Regions from separate parts of the Homo sapiens genome. Here region 1 is linked to region 2. Evidence: fine-mapped expression QTL. A gene starts in region 2. The other region holds a variant in brackets. All regions are shown on one strand. Distances are from middle to middle.

Region 1 (8,348 bases), 47 kb after region 2:
TCTGGTTATTCAGCTGTGACTACATCCAACTATAGCAAAATCTGGTTCTTATTTCTCCATTGAGACCACAATAATTTTATAAGAAACATCTAATTCCTTTATTAATTTATTAATTCACTTAGTAAGTCAGTCTTTCAGTAAGTAATAAGTTTCCACCCTCATGGAGCTTACATTCTGCATATCAGCTAGTATGCTAGTTATGGTATCCTTAACAAATAAGAAAATTAGAACAATTTAACATGACGTACTTTCAGTAAACTGATGCTGGCTTCTAGTGATTAGTGTCTCTCAAGTCTTCCCCAACCCTCCATGTCAGTGTCTGTTCTCTGAATATCCTGGTGATTGACATCAAGATTGTTGTTCTTTAGTCTCTGTAATATTTCCTTCCTAGTCTTTGAAAAATGTGATAAGATGTGCTTATGTCCACTTCTCTGGCATATCTCCAGCTCCGTGATCTCTCATGTCTAAGTTCTATCTGAGTAATCAAATGTTAGTTATCTGAACTTAGTCATATCTCTTATTTGCATATTGGATATCTGCAAGTTCTAGGACAGCTAGATTCATTTTACTCATTTTTTTCTTATTTTTCTGTACAATATTTTAGCATATACTTATTTGCTGGTTGCATAGTGTGAGAAAGATAAATTTAGGTTATATTAAGTGATTGGCAATAAAAAGGACACAATATGCACACTGATAGCACATTTGTTAAATGTATAGGAAGTACACACGTGTGCTAAAATGAAATCTAGTAGGATATGTAACAAAGGCAGTAGGTTTAATTTTCTTATTTTTGCTCGTCAGAATTTTCTAATTTTTCTACAGTGAATATGTTACTTTTGAGGAAAGCAACTTAACGTATTTTTTTGGTAGAAATTTTTTATATCCTTTGTGATGGAGATAGGGTGGGGAGAGGCAATTTTCATAAGACGTGAATTTTAAGGAGGAAAAAAGAATTTAATTAGAAAGTTGGAGAACAATATAATGAAATTCAAAATGTATAAAGATAAGTACTGTGCTGGGTTCAGTATTTAGCATTCCCATGCATATTTTTGTATTTTGGCATGTGTGTGTATGTGTGTGTATCCATAAACAATATAGTTAGAATTACTTTACATATTTAAAAGTTTCATAAATTCATGTGTAAAATGAATTGCATGTATCATTCTAATTTTTTCCAGCATACTAATTTTTAGGTCACTTCATGTTTAAAGCTGTAGACCTGCTCTTTCATATTCTGTTTCTGTGTATGTGAGCTGCTTTCTTTTTTACAGTTGTATAGAGTTTTCATTGAATAATTTTGCTATGATTTATGTAATATTGGTGTACATCAGGTTGTTTTTAATTTTATGGTATTATAAACGAGTACGATGTTTTTATTTGTGTGGCTAAGCATATGTGCAGGTATATTTGTAGGGTAAGTTCCTGAAAGTAAATTTACTGGGTTATTTTACATTTTACAGTCAGTGTACATTTTACATTTTGATAAATGATACATAATAGTTGTACCAGTTTTCACTTTTCCCTACAATGTATAGGAATACTTATACTCTGTCAGCACTACATGGCCTCTTATTTTACTGCTATTTCAAACATCTTTTTCAGTCAGTCTCACCTACGGTGATTGACGTATCAATAGGAACTTCTCATTGTACTTTGACCTTTGTTACCTTTTGAATTTTAGGTTTTCTTTTTTCCTTTGTTGCATTATTACTTCGACTTCTCAAATAGCTTTTAATGATTTGTTTGCTTTTTCTATAATGTTCATGTTAAACTTATATCACCACAGTGGTCTTTTTTTTATATTTAAAAAAATTATTGGGAAGTTTAGAAGTGGGAAAAGTGGTCTTTTTTTGTATTTAAAAAAATTACTGGGAAAGTTTGGAAGTGGGAAAAGTTCATTGTGAATTTAAAATGAATTCTTAGGAAAGGCTAGTAATATTATGTACTGCCTCTATAGTTACTCTTATTTAGATTGGTTTCAGGTAGAGTTTTGCTGTGATCAAGATTCCTGACATCTCTTTGAATTCAGCCCTTCTGAGCCAGCCTCCCAGTCCAGGTGATCCTTTGCAGAAAACAATGATAATTTGGAAGAATATAGTTAGTTCCTTTCATGGATTGAAACGTAATGAAAATCCATCAGGTTTCAGTCAGTTTAAGGATAGGGAAAGTGACAATAGGAACAGAAGAAAATGAGGAGGAATTTTATACAAGTTAGCAACTAATATTTTAAAGTGTTTCAACGTTACTCTCTTGTAATTCTTTTTTTCTAACTTTCCTCATTGTTTGTCTTAGATCATTTCTTTAGAGTAGCTAGAAACAGGTGGTCCTCTGTTTAACTCAGATGTCCATTTCACCTCAGGATTGTGCCACTTAAAGTTCCAGCTAGCAATAGAGAAGGGTGTTGCCTACAGGTAAGGCAAGGTGAAGTGAGGAGGGAGTGGTGATGGCGATAGGAGGAAGAACAAGTAGTTTAACTTCTTTTTTTAAAAAGGTAGTTAATATGTATCACCTTTTCTTTACTCTTTTCTTCCTATGTTTTCTGGGTTTGGGGAAAATACAAACAGATTAGGTTGAATGTGTAAGGTTTAGCTTGAGGAGAATAGGCTAGTTCAACTAACTGGACTGTGAGTGGGGCTTTTTGTCTGTTTTGTTTGCTGTTGTGTGCTTATCATTTGGAATAGGGTTTGGATCAAGTAGTTGTTTGTTGAATGAATGAATGTAAGCATGTATGAATTAAGTAGACTGAGCCTGTAACTCAGTAGGATGAGGTTTGCAACTTTGTCTGAAAGACCTGAAATGCTGAGTCTCTGTTCCAGCAGTTGCAGGGTAGGTGGATTCTTTTCCAGTTCCTCCTATTGTAGTCTTTCTAGTCTAACCCTATAAACACAGTGCCTTCAGACTTCCTTTTTTGGCCTACAGTTCTGCACTGCACTCAGTGCTTATTTCTTAGGATTATGTCTATAAAGCCTTAGCACAGTGTCTGACACATAGTTGGTAGTTATTATTATTCTAATTCAGTACCCAAACAGTTCACTTAAGGCTCATCAAGTTAGATATTTATTTAATCAAAGCACATTTACATTATAGCTAACTAATAGCGTTACTCTACTAATACAAACAGGTATTTGTTTGTCAGGAGCACAGTAGTTAGCCAGATAAGTGAGCTGTGATAATGGAGTTGGGGAAAGGGTTAGTCAGGGAATTGGGGTTTTTCTGGAGTGTCTTGCCTTTTCCAAGAAGTTTCCCCTGTCCTTCCAAACAGTCCAAGAGTAGTAAGTCTCGTCACGTGTTTCCTTATCTTTGCAAATGGTTTAGTACTTCCATTTTCATGGAGCTAGTGAAAATGAAAAAACTCTTGAGAGAGGTAAGATTATCTTCTTTTAAATCCCTCTACACTCACAGTAAGCTCTCAATCTTTACTGTGGCTTCAAGGCTCTGTCCTTTATAAGCCCTGCCTACCTTTTAAACTTCTCTCATTCTTGTTCCCTTTGCTACAGCAATACTGCCATCTTGCTGTGAAATGTGCACACC[G/T]ATTTTATTTCCAACACTGTATTTTTGTGCTCGTTGTTCCTTGTGCTTCACTCCCTCCCCTCTGCTACCCACTTTAAATAATCACATGGCTTTTTTTTATTTATGTCTAAGCTTAAATGTCAAGAGACTTTTCAGACCATCCTGTGTGAACTGTTCTTTTTTTTCCCCTCATGACCCTGTCTAGTCTGTCTGTAATAATTTATTTATTGGTTTATTTTTTGTCTATGTTTCTCCCGCTAGAATGTGAGCTGCATAAGTGAAAGAACCTTGTCTGTCTTTGAATTTTATGAGGAAGAGAGAGTGAATTGACAGACTGTATATTGGAAATGTTAAATGGTAAATCTAGGAATCCAAAAGTTTCCTCTATTTAATATCAGGCAAAATTCTGTTCAGGATTTTTTTTTTTTAAATATGGTGTTAATCAGGAAGTGGCTAATACAAAACTCAGTAAACCCTTGACCTTTTTTCAGCTGTCTCTCTGACCTCGTCCTCTGTGATGGTACCTTCCTCACAGCTCCAGCCAGGTTGGCCATTTTGTTCTTCCTCAAGCACGTTGCAGGTGTTCACCTTGGTATTTTGCAGTTGCTATTTCTTCTGCTTGCAGTTTTCTTCACCCAGATAATTGTGTGGTTCCAGAACTCACTTCCTTATTCAGTTTTTAGATAACATTGTTTTCTCAAAAACATGTTTGAATATGAGGAGCAGTGTAAGTATGCAAGTCTGTGTTTTGTAAATTCAGTTTTTATCTTGATAGCTGTTTATGTTGACTTAGATGAAACATGGTTCTTTAATTTTATGATATGTTTGTTATAGCTATCTTAAAAGGGCTTCTTTTTTTTAATGCAGAAAGAGGGGAAAAAGGAGCGAGCTGTGGTGGACAAGGTGTTTTTCTCAAGGCTCATACAGATTCTGAAAATCATGGTCCCTAGAACATTTTGTAAAGAGGTAAGTCTTATGAAATTATAATCTTAAGTATATTGGGCCGTTCTTTAATAAAATACCTGAGGCTGGGTAATTTATAAAGAAAAGAGATTTAATTGGCTCCTGGATCTGCAGGCTGTACAAGCATGGCACAGCATCTCCTCCACTTCCGGGGAGGCCTCAGGAAGCTGGCAATCACAGCTGAAGGTGAAGGGGGAAGCCAGTGTCTCACATGGTGAGAGAGGGAGCAAAGGGCCAAGGAGGTGCCACATACTTTTAAACAACCAGATACATGAGAACTCACTCACTGTCTGGAGGACAGCACCATGCCATGAGGGATCTGCCTCCATGACCCAAACACCTCCCACCAGGCCCCACCTCCAACACTGGGGATTACATTTCAACATGAGATTTGGGTGGAGACAGATACCCAAATTAAATTATTAAGTGTTCAACTTTCAAGGTTATGTAAGATTAGAACAGTAAAATCATAACACTTTGGTTATACTATAGGTCAAATGTTTTCTCTGTAGGTCAAGAAGATTACTAAATTTTTGTCTTTAAATCATCACCTGTCATACAAAAAACCTTGTTCAGTGCCAGTTTTTAAATAGTTTTCTCTTGTTTCTGAAGTATTATTTCATTTTATTTTATGTGAAATGCTAGGGTACTGCCATACAGCTACCCTAAATGGTGTTGCTTTGTTATAGTTAAATACTGTTGATAAACACTAGATTAAATTTCAAAAGACAAACCCTTTTATTACATTGAGATGTTAACAAGTCACATTAGTGTGGAGTATATTTGATTAAATATTTTTAAGATATGCAAAATGATATCTGGATTCATCAGTTATTTCATTCAGGAAGTGAGCTGCTTATACGAATAGTTGTATAATTCGTTCCTTTGCTTTTTTATCAAGATTATCTTCATTATTTGATAAACATTTTTAATGATTATTAAAATAATGCCGTATTCTCCATCTTCCTCAGCATTCTCTCATTCTGTAACTAGAAGTATCATTACCTTCAGCTCTTCCTCTTCCCCTTGTCACCCTTTTTGGTCACTGGGATCTGCTAATTTTTCCTATACTTAACTGTTACAAAAGCATTGCAGTTCCCAAAGAAAACGTACATTCCTTCATCATGCTGGATTTGCTCTTTCCCTCACTTTGGCATCATCTCCTGATGATTCTGCCCTTGAGAAATTCTTTTTTTAAAAAAAGTAATGACACTTGTTTTTTCCTAATTAGACAGAGGTAATACATGTTCCTTGAAGAAAATTAGAAAATGCAGCTAGATTTATTTTTTGGCACCTATCAGCCTCTTACTCGTTTTGATATATAGTCATCCTGTGTGCAAGCATATATTTTAATTTAAAAATGGGATCACACACTTTTAAGATCTGCTCCTTCCCTTATATTATAAATGTTCTTTCTAAGTATCCTAAAGTTTCTTATAAATTATTCTCTCCCTTTACATTCCTACTGTTCTCACTATATCTTACCTGGATTATTATATCTTAATTGGTCTTTTTGCTTCTTTTCCTTTTCCAATTTGTATTCTTTCTTAAAATCCTAATCAAAACATGTAACTTCATTTTCCTTATAGGGTAAATCACAACCTGACTTTGGCCTTCCTTTTAATACCATCTGCTTAGGAGATCATTGTTTTACGATCTGGCCCTATGTCCTCAGCCTTTCATTTGTTTACAACATCATGTCTGTGACATCCTGTACGTCCCCACAACAAAAACAAATATGTTTTTAAAAATTGCTTAATGCTTATCTTTTTTGTGAATATTTCCAGTGACTCTTCAGGCATAACTAATTGTCCTGCCTTTGAAGAATCCTTATTTAAAATACAAGCTTCTCTGGAAAGATGCATATGTTACCTTCCAATCAGTTAACAGCTTAATGTTCATTTTAACTATTGCAGGGGTTCAATGAATGTAAAACAAATTTGAAACATTGGATGAGTCCCTGGGAATTAGTAAGGGAGGTAGAAGGGGCTAATTTGGCCAGCTTCCCACCCTCTGCAGGCCTTCTTCCCTTACTTTAACTTCTATGTCACTGTCTTATTGTTCCAATTTAGAAAATTTAAGATCAGCTTTAAATATGTGTACTTGGGGTTGGGGTGGCAGGATTCTCATCTCACAGAAAGATAACTGATTCCCAGCCAGTCACCCAGCATCTTGACTTTCCCTGCTTCGTAATCTGTCTTGCACAGCATTGCTTAAGTAATATTCTTTAAACATCACTTTTTAACATCACTTTTTGTTCTACTGAGAAGCTTGCGAGAATTTTATGTGTGTAAACTCAGTACAGTACCATAGTTCATATGATTTTAATCCCTTTTTTCCCCCATTAAATCCTTCATCTTTTTTACCTTTAATCCTCATTCTCTTTTTTGTTTTACTGTTTATCATATTTCTAATGCCATAACTGTCTTTTGCTACCCCAAACCTTCCCATCCCACAGCTTAGGACATGAAATGATACAAATATGTTTGCCTAAATTTGTCTGCTACTTTTTATGTGTAACTCTTCCCTTCATAACTAAATTGAAAGCCCTATGAGGGCATGGACACTATTATAAATTTTTCTAACAAATTAAACCAAATTTATTCTACCTAGGCAAAATTTTAGGCTTCAATTTTGGTTAGTTGTATAACTGTATATGTGCAGTTACTGTCATTTTTCTTTGTTAAAGTTATATGTCAAAATATAAGAAAATCAACAATACACTATGATCTAGGTAATCTAAGTTACATTCCCAGCTTCTGTCCTTGACTAGGTATATGAAGGCAAGTCCTTTGACCTGCCTAGGATTCACTTTTGAATTCTGAATGAGAAAGATTAAATGAATCTATGAGGCTTTTTTCATTTATATAATATTCTTGCGTTCCCTTTAAACTATATTTAAAATTACTTATAGAAAAAATGTCAGCCAACTATATTGAAACTTACATAAAGCTTTAGATTTGGAAACCAAAAATTGTTACCAAGGTAATATTTCTTTGAACTTTCTAAAATGCATGTATTTAATTTACTATACCTGGTTTATTTTAGACAGGTTACTTGGTACTTATTGCTGTTATGCTGGTGTCTCGAACATATTGTGATGTTTGGATGATTCAAAATGGGACACTAATTGAAAGGTACTTTTTCAATCACCTTCCTCCTATATGTATGAAATGCTAATTTGTCTCATATTTATGCATTATCTTTATAAGCAACAAATAGATTCTAAGTTAGGTAAAAGATAACCCAAGTCAAATTATGTGTTTGTTCATTTACTTAAAAAATACTTAGTGTTTCCCATGTGCCAGGCAATGTGCTATACTGTGATGGGGTCTATATGCCAGCAACTAGGAGAAACTGTACCAAGCCTTGCTGAGCTGACAGTTTATCAAGAGTTAGAGACAGGTAGACAGAAAATTAAAATGCAGCATAATAAGTGCTGTAATGGGAATTCTAAAAAACCACCAAGTTGGATTTTTGAAATTAATGAGATAATTTGGAGGAAAATTTCAAAGCATTTCAAAGAATCACGTTGAGCATGTTTATTAGAAGGGAAGACAATTCTTAGACATTTCTTTCTGCATCTGGTGATAGTGCTTTTTATATTTTTTCATTATAGTCTTTCTACATATTATTAATCACTGCAATTGCTAATTTTGAATGTAAAAACGTAAAAAATGTCAGTTGGGATATCTTGGGTTATAACAATTTACCATTTATCTGTTAATAAAGAATTTATTTTTCATAATACCAATTAGAATGTCAGAGTAAACATTTTTGCTAGGAATTTTATTTCCTGGTATGCAGTATTTTGTCAGAAAATTCCTTAAAGTATTTAATCTAAAATAACTTTTTGAATGACAGTACTTAAA
Region 2 (8,348 bases):
TAACTTGGCAATGGGGTGAAGGGGTTAGGGGGGACTGGTCACAGATGACTGTTCAGAGTAGGAGACCATGAACGCTTCGTTTTAAAGGATAAACTGAGTTGAACGTGAGGATGTTAGGGTAGGAAGGGATTCAGGTAGAAGGAATAGGATATTCAAGGGAAGACTACAGAAGTGAATAGCAGGCATCTATCTCCTGGGGTAGGGGTAGAATATATCTGTAGGAGGGGAGAAGTGCCAAGATAGGAGTTAGAGAGGTAGGCAGAGCTTATATCATCACTGGGTTTGTGTGAGATGCTAAGGCTATTGCAGTTTATCTTGGTGATGAGAAACTAGTAAGGAATTTGTTTGCATCTCATTACCTTTCCTGATGAGCATGTACCACTTCTGTGTCTCCGACCTTGGGTAAATAGTATCACCCTCTTAGACACTCAGCAAGGCAATATCAGAATCAATGTAAAAATTTTCTTCCTATGAATTAATTATTTCACCTATTTCCATTTTATGTGAATCCACAAAGTCATTTTCTTCCTATTTGATCTGTGCTGCCCTGACTCACATGGTCACTACCTTTTACCTAGACTATTTCATGTGTTCAAACTGGTCCCTCTGCTTGATGGTTCCTCCTTCAGCCCACTCTACACACTGCCACTAGCATGATCTTTCTTAAATAAATCCTGAGGTCACTACTCTTTCCCCAGACCTGCAATACACCTTTCTACATGCAGAATAAAAATCCTACCCGGTTGGATTGGTGTTTCAGACCCTCCACAAATTGACTTCAGTTAAACATTGCAAACTTTTCTCTCATTTCACATGCCTCCCTCAGCCTCCATCCACATCAGACTTAATCACCTTCCTCAATCTGCTTCGGTCTCTGCATCTTTGCTCCTGTTGTATCTTCTTCGGAATCCTCTTTTTTCCATCTGTTTTTCAAGGTCACAGTGTCTGCATAATAAATTACCCCCAAATTTAGTGACTTAATACAATAAACACATTACCTTCCACAGTTTCTACGAGTCAGGAATTTAGCAGCATCTTGGCTGAGCTGTCTGGTTTGAGATTACTCATGAGGTTGCAGTCACCTGAAGGCTTGACTGAGGATGGAGGATCTGCTTCCAAGATGGCCCACTCCCATGGCTAGCAAGCTGGTCTGGCTCCTGGTGGGAGGCCTCAGTTCCTCTCCAGGGCACTTTGAGTGCTCTCTGTGGCAGCTGGCTTCCCCAAGAGCAAGCAATCCAAGACACCAAGGCAGAAGCCACAGTGCCTTTTATAATCTGGCCTTTGAAGTCACATAGCATCACCTTCATTATACTCTTTTGGTCACAAAACTCAGCTCTGATGTGAGGGAAATTCCATGAGGGCATAAATATTAGGACACCATGATCACCAGGGACAATCTTGGAGTCTGGCTAACACAACATTTCTTCCAGAGGCTTTCTAGATTCACTAACTTCCTATGCCCTGCCTACCTGTTCTCAGTAGCTCAAATTCTTTAAAAATCAGAGCTCTTGGAGATCTCCCCCATAAAATCACATTTTCTGTTTTTCTTTATTATTTAATATTATGAAGTGTGAACTTGCAAAATTGCATTGTTAATTATCAAAGGACATAGTGCTGAGGAATTTTGTTCTCTAAAATCCTAGACTGTTAGAAAGTTTGTTGTTCTGAGATTCTATCAGTGAGAACAGAACATCCCTTTCTTGCCTGGCAGATTTGAACTCTTTGAGTCACTTAGAGTTACAGAAGCAGTCTCCATTTCCAGTGCAGAAGTTCAGATAAGGGATTTTCAGACACAATATTCTACATTAATCTTAAATGTATGTTTCTAAGAACTAGAATCTTGAATCTGCTTCTCAGCCCAGGTTTGATATTACATACAGATCTGATTTGCTTTAGGCCTATCAAGCACTGCTTTATTTAGATTTTACCTAAACTCCTCTCTTTCTCTAAATACTATAATGACTCCTTATTTCTTCCTTTTTTTTGAGACATGGCCACAATTCCTCTGCTGTATAGTATCTTTTGCTGTAGCAAATTAATAAACTTAATGGGTTCCAGATTTGGTCCTGGTGATTTTTGTCAGATGGGCTTTATCAATAGCTAAAATTATTTGAGCTCGAATAACTAGTGTAATTTTTTAGAATCTCCCATGCTTCTTGAACAAGGGTAACTTTTAGAATGTTTTGTCAATAGATCATTTCTATCTTTCCTCTGACTGTTTTGAAATCTATTTTCTAGACTGTTTTTGACTAATCTTGCTTGTACTTCCTTCACTGTTACAAACTCTAAGATGATACCGTTACTTTCTCACAAGGTTCCCAACTCTTTTCTAGCACTTTATTACTGAATTAGTAATTTCCTGTTTTGTCCTCCTGAGTGACTCCTGCGGTCCTTTAGAATTTAGCTACAGAATCACCTTTGTCAAGCCTTAAGCCTTTATTGAAAGCATTAGACAAAACTAAATATTTTCATGTTTGTGTTCTCATAGCACCTTGTTCATATCTCTAATATAGTACTTACCACATTTATACTTGATTTTTTTTACACGTTTTTCTTCTCTAACAGCCTCTGGAGAATATGATCTCCATGATCTGTTCATCCTTGTGTTATCTGTGCCAGGCATACTTAATTACGTAAATTATGTGAGGTCGTTGGGGCTCACAACACAATACTCCAAAATGAAGGTCTCAGTAGCAAAAGTTCTCTGCCCTACTCTGGCCCTCCTGTCTCTCAGTCCCGTATTTCCCTAGGCTAGCCATAGATATTAGGATCCCTATTCCTCAAGACAAGATGTAGAAACCAGAACCTCTATCCCCTAAAGCCAGCCATAAAAGCCTAAACATATTTTGCTAGTTTTCCCTCCCCCTTTTTCTGTAAAATCTGGCCATAAAGAAATTATCTGACCTGCCTTGTTTGACTGTAGGCTGTTAAGAGCTCCATTCCATTCCTGCCCTATACCCAGAAGGAAGGAATGGTGCTCAGAAGGCCAAGAAGAATCTAGACAGGCCTTGCTGGGTGTCCCCACTCAGTCTGTTAGCATTAGATTATACCATTTTTGTCCAATCACATTTCTACATAGCTGTCCATACTTTGTTGAACCTAAACACAAAAATGGACAATTTTCCAAGTATCTTTGGGTCTCCATTCTGAACGCTCCCATGTATACACATTAAATTTGTATGCCTTTTCTCCTATTAATTTTTTCTTCTATTAATCTGCCTTATGTCAGCGGTTTTCAGTTAACTTTCAGAGGGCCAAAACCTTTTGTCCCTCCAGGTAATGAAAATGTCCACATGACAAATAGTGAATTAGTAGGAGCTTCAGTTCTGCATAATTTAGAATTCACTGTTGAGCACCTCTATACGCATGCCATTATTGTACCTCGTCTTTGTGATCCTCATAACCTGTATTAGGCAACAGCTCATTTATATTGAGAAAACACCTAGGGCACAGCACCACTACTTTGTAGGCTACTTTAATATGTATGTGCATTATGCGAGGTTTTATGAGCTTATTTTCTGACACACTTGCTTTTCTCCAGTTTCCTCAGCTGAAAACAGCGATTCACTGTTACTGTATATATGCTAGGCTCAATGCTGGCGATAACAATTCCTGCAACATAGGGTCAGACAGGAGAAGAATGTTGTAATCTGCAAAGCCCTTCTGATTCTGGGAGTGAGGCCAGCATTAATACAACGCACGATTGTTACTTCTGAATGTCCCTTTGCAAAGAACAGTGTTTCTCAAACTTTTTTCTGACCAGATCTGCATACATTTTACATCGCCGCTGGCGATACATACGTGCAAAACACTGAAATCGAAATTTCTCTAAACAACTCCTTTACTACGTGATGTACTGTGAAACTTTTCTATTTTGTTCTATTCTCAATTTTATTAAAAACGGAGGGTGATGATCCCGATCTACCAAACCAATTTCACAATGCGCTAGAGATTATAACCCGCGGTTTGGAAAATACTGGCTTGGAAAAAGCTCTTTGATCTGTGTCATTCTCCTCACATCTCCCTACACCTCTGCGGAGTTCCGATTGTTTGGTTTCGTCCTGATAATCACTGTGCTGTGTTTTCCCTACACGCTCTGTGACGGGGCCGTCCGCCTCCTTCCTGGGCTCCTTTAAGAGGGTGGTAACGGTACATCACCGCGGGAGTGGAGAGGCAGGGCCCACTAGGTCGTCGCTGCAGGCCAGGCCCGCTCATCCAGTTATTGTGAAAGCCGGGGTGTGCGCGCGAAGAGTGGGAGGGTAGGGGTGAGGCAGGGGCAGCACTGACGCCTCGCAGGGCTGAGTAGCAACAGCTCCTCCGCGCCGCGTTTCCGGAGACCCTGAAGGAGTCCGCGCGTGCGCAGAGCGCGTCCCGGGAACTGTTCCGCCCACGGAGGCTGCCGAGCGCGCTCCCGCCGGGCCAAAGTACAAAGTGGGCTCCAGAGCGCGGGCGGCGCGGCGGCGCGAGCCAGGGGGCGGTCCTGCGCGGCCGGCCCCGCCCTCTGCTCTCCTCCCAGTCTCCCCCGCGCTGCGTGCAGTAAGGTAGCCGCCGCCGCCGCCGCCGCCGCGTCCCCTCGCCGGCTCGCTGGTACCGGCAGTGCCATGGCGGCCTTCAGCAAGTACTTGACGGCGCGAAACTCCTCGCTGGCTGGTGCCGCGTTCCTGCTGCTCTGCCTGCTCCACAAGCGGCGCCGCGCCCTCGGCCTGCACGGGTAAGAAGGCCCGTAGCCGTGCAGCTTTCCCGGGCTGGAGCGGGCGCTCCCCGCGCGCTCTCTCTCCCCACCCGGCCGACAGGTCTCTTTGCCCGACGGGGTCGGGCGGAGAGAGGGCCGACCGCGACTGCCGTGGGACTTCAATGTCAGGGTGTCCGCGAGTCCCCGCCACGACGGCGTCGGTCCCAGCTGGCCTGTCCGGCGACCTCGCTCCACCCCGGGAGTGCGAATTCTTCTGTGCCCGCGGGCGAACCGGCGCCCAGCCAGCACTCAGGCAGCGGCCTCCAGTTGGGGGTGGGAGGGGGATGCGGTGTGTCCCCCACCCCCTTCCCTACATCACCCCCTTCTGTGTCAACTTTCTGGGTGTGTTCTGGTTTTGCCATCTCATCTTCAGACCGTGAAGGATTTGTTTTGGGGACGTGGATGTGTGATTGAGGATGGGGATTGGATTCGCCAGGCTGGAGGCTGGTGTCTAAGTCACTTGGACGAGGTTTGGCTCGATTCCCGACTAACTGCTATTGAAAGTCGCGAGGGTGGCTTCTATGAAACTATTCCCGGTCCACTTGGCAGGATTGCCGTCTAAAGTGGTGAGCCCTTGGAGTCGGTGAACCCTTTGGTCGGTGAACATTTGGTCGGTGGCATTTCATCCGGAAAGGCTGGATCGGTTCTGTCGGACTTAGAGGGAAATGTTTTCCTTCCTGGGCTCTGTAGGTGAAAGATGAGAGTGTGGTTTAGGTGAGGATCAAGCTCCTTTTTAATGACACGCCACTGCTTCCACCGCGGGAGAATTTCAGTGCTTAGATTTAACTTTGGGAGGTTATCAGTTCAGAAAAAGTAAAAAAGAGAGAGCTGAATTACGGTTGCGACATACAGGTATGTATGTCACATACATGCAATTTTTATTTGCTGGACAAGTGAAAGAGAAAAGGCTACTTCCCAAGCGTTCTTGCCAGTCATTGAATATTTCGTATTAAATCTTGACATACTACTTTCATGAATTTTATTTCATTCATTCCTCTGAGCAGGTACTGTTGCCTCCCGTGTTTGATTTGCCTACAATATCTAATTAGTAGTAAAATTTGGGCTAAAACACAAATAGACTTCTAGTTTATAGTACCCTTTCCATTAAGTTCTTTCTAGCCGCCTTCTGTTTTTATCTTACTAGAGTCTGAAGTGATGATCTTTCTTTTCCTTCCTAAATCCATTTAACAGAGTTGAAAATGATTTGCAGCATAGTCTGGGCAATAACAGCGCTTACTCATTTTTCTTCTATTCAGTTTGCTTTTAAAAGGATTAATTTGGGAAAATAAAAAGCAAGTTTTTCTGTTGGTTTGTATGAACTCCCAGTTGCAAATAGAAGTTACCTGTTACCTGGGAACATGCCAGTAGAAAGAAGATGTTAGGTCCTTTAACTTGAATTCTGTTTTTGCAAAGAAGTGTTTCAGGGCATAGAACAGGTGTTTTAATATGGAGGAGGGGACTCGAGGACAGCCCTACAAGTTCTGGATTACTTTTATGATTATATGTATATGTGATATAGTATCACATACATGCCACATACATATAGTACACATAGAGCTTGAAGAATTTTTACAAGTAGAACACACTCGTGTAATCAGCACCCAGATCAAGAAACAGAACATTATCAGCACCCCAGAAATTCTCCTCATGCCCCCATCCAGTCACAGTCCACCTAACTACTAAACCAGTTTGTAAGACCATAGATTATTGCTAAGGGAAATTTTAAACAGAATCTATTGGGAAATAGTAGCGATAGAAGTAAAATAATGTAATAGAATTTGTCTTATTAAATAATTTTAGCTCCTCATTTGCCATTGTAAAATGCCTAAAAAAATTTTTTTTTGAGAAACTTTGTGAGCTTTTGTGGGGATTAAATTCTTTAGCAGGAGATGTACTGAACAAAAGATTATTATTAGTCTTTTGCATTGGGATGAGTGGGGAAAATCTCTATTTTACACAGTATTTTGTTGGAGGAGATTGCAGATTCTGAGCAGATAATCATGAAGTTTAAATTGTTGAGGTGAAATGATTGAACTATTTTGAAACCATTAAAAATGGTATTGAGTGTATTTTTGTAGATATTGTACTTCCAGAAGCTTACAAATATCTTTTAGTCACCACCTTTGGTATCACAGTTTGAAGATTAGAAGATTCTAACTTTATATTTGAGTGGGCTTTTGAATATCTTTGGTAACAGAACTGATTAATTTTAATATCTGGTGCTTAATTAAGGAAACTGTGGCTACTTGGCCTTCTTTTGTCTATGTTGTTAATAGTAGGTTGGTTTTAGAATATATATTCCCTTAGAATTGGATAGGTAATAGAGCTAGTAAAATCACTTTAAAAGTTACAGTGTAACATTATTCCAAACATTGGGAGAATGAGTAATTAAATGTTCTGGGTTACTTTTAATTTTTGTTAATGTAATTTTTTTCACTCAGTTAAATCTCATATATATGTGTGTGTGTTTCTGACCTTTTATTGTGGAAAATTTCACACATATAAAAAATAAATAGAATAATACAAGGATTGCCCAATGCACTTTACCCAAGGAGTACCAACAACATTCTATATTCTTGTTTCATCTATTTCAACCTGCCTGTCACCCCTTATTTTTATAGGTTTTTTAGGTAAAATTTATATACATTGAAATGTACAAATATTAGTTGTACATTTTTTAAACAAATGGATACACTATGTAACACATCCCTATGACAAATTAGAACATTTCTATCCCACCAGAAAGTTCCTTTGTATTCATTCCTGATCAGCTTGTATTCACTCCTGATTCCAGCACTGCTAAGCTAACTTTTTCACCTTAGTTTGCCTAATCTTACCTTTTATTTTATTATTTATGGGGAAAAGAAGAATCTTTTTACTCATGGATAAAGAGGGCTATTTAAAGGAAGTGTCTATTTCAGAATGTTATATTACTGTACTGGGAGCTATAAGATGTGTGTGTGTGTGTGTGTGTGTGTGTGTATTACAAAAATATATGACTTGTTTTCTCAGGGAGCTTACCTTCTTGTTAGGGAAAAGAAACTTAAACACTGATAGCAGAATGAAATGTACAGATAGACATGTCTTAGAAGTTTTGAGAAAGACAAGATTAATGTGTTTGGGAAGGGTTGGGGAAGGCTTCATGAAGGATGTGTGTTAAGCCTAGAAAGGGGGTAGGAGTGGATAACTGGAATAAAGTGACTGTTACAGCATCCTTTATCAGATTTTTGTTGCATTTATGTTAGAAAGAAACTTTGTGGTGCCCTTTCAATCCATCTTCCACTGCCACCAGAGCTCTTTTTAAGAAGCTCAGATATGATCATAATATTCCTTCATTAAAATCATTAATCTACTCTAAAATACAAACTTTCTGTATTCATGGTGTGGTCCTTCCCTACTTTTCCCACTCATCCAACCATAAGTGCTGGGATTACAGGCATGAGCCAACTTGCCCAGCTGATACTTCTTTTTCTTCAAGACTCAGTCAACACTTTGTCTTAGGTGTTTTCTGTCTTTTTCTGATTTCCAAACTGATGTAAGTGTCCTCTGCTTTTATGATACTGTAGGCCAGGGGTCCCCAACCCCCGGGCTGTGGACTGGTACAGGTTGGTGGCCT

Evidence for each region. PIP is the estimated chance that this variant, and not a neighbour inherited with it, causes the effect.
Region 1: its variant is fine-mapped to the expression of ABCD3 in whole blood (TOPMed, PIP above 0.99).

Annotation. Positions count from the first base shown.
Region 1 is chr1:94,460,395-94,468,742 of GRCh38, forward strand. It overlaps ABCD3 (ATP binding cassette subfamily D member 3), which reads left to right. Exons shown (of 23, transcript NM_002858.4): 3 at 4,381-4,479; 4 at 7,525-7,613. Among named protein-coding and RNA genes, the nearest start is that of ABCD3, 46 kb to the left of the region's middle. The variant G/T (reference allele first, on the strand shown) is at 3,535.
Region 2 is chr1:94,413,878-94,422,225 of GRCh38, forward strand. It overlaps ABCD3 (ATP binding cassette subfamily D member 3), which reads left to right and starts at 4,512. Exons shown (of 23, transcript NM_002858.4): 1 at 4,512-4,711. The coding sequence starts at 4,602. RefSeq lists enhancers at 3,701-4,492, 4,964-5,103 and a silencer at 4,254-4,633.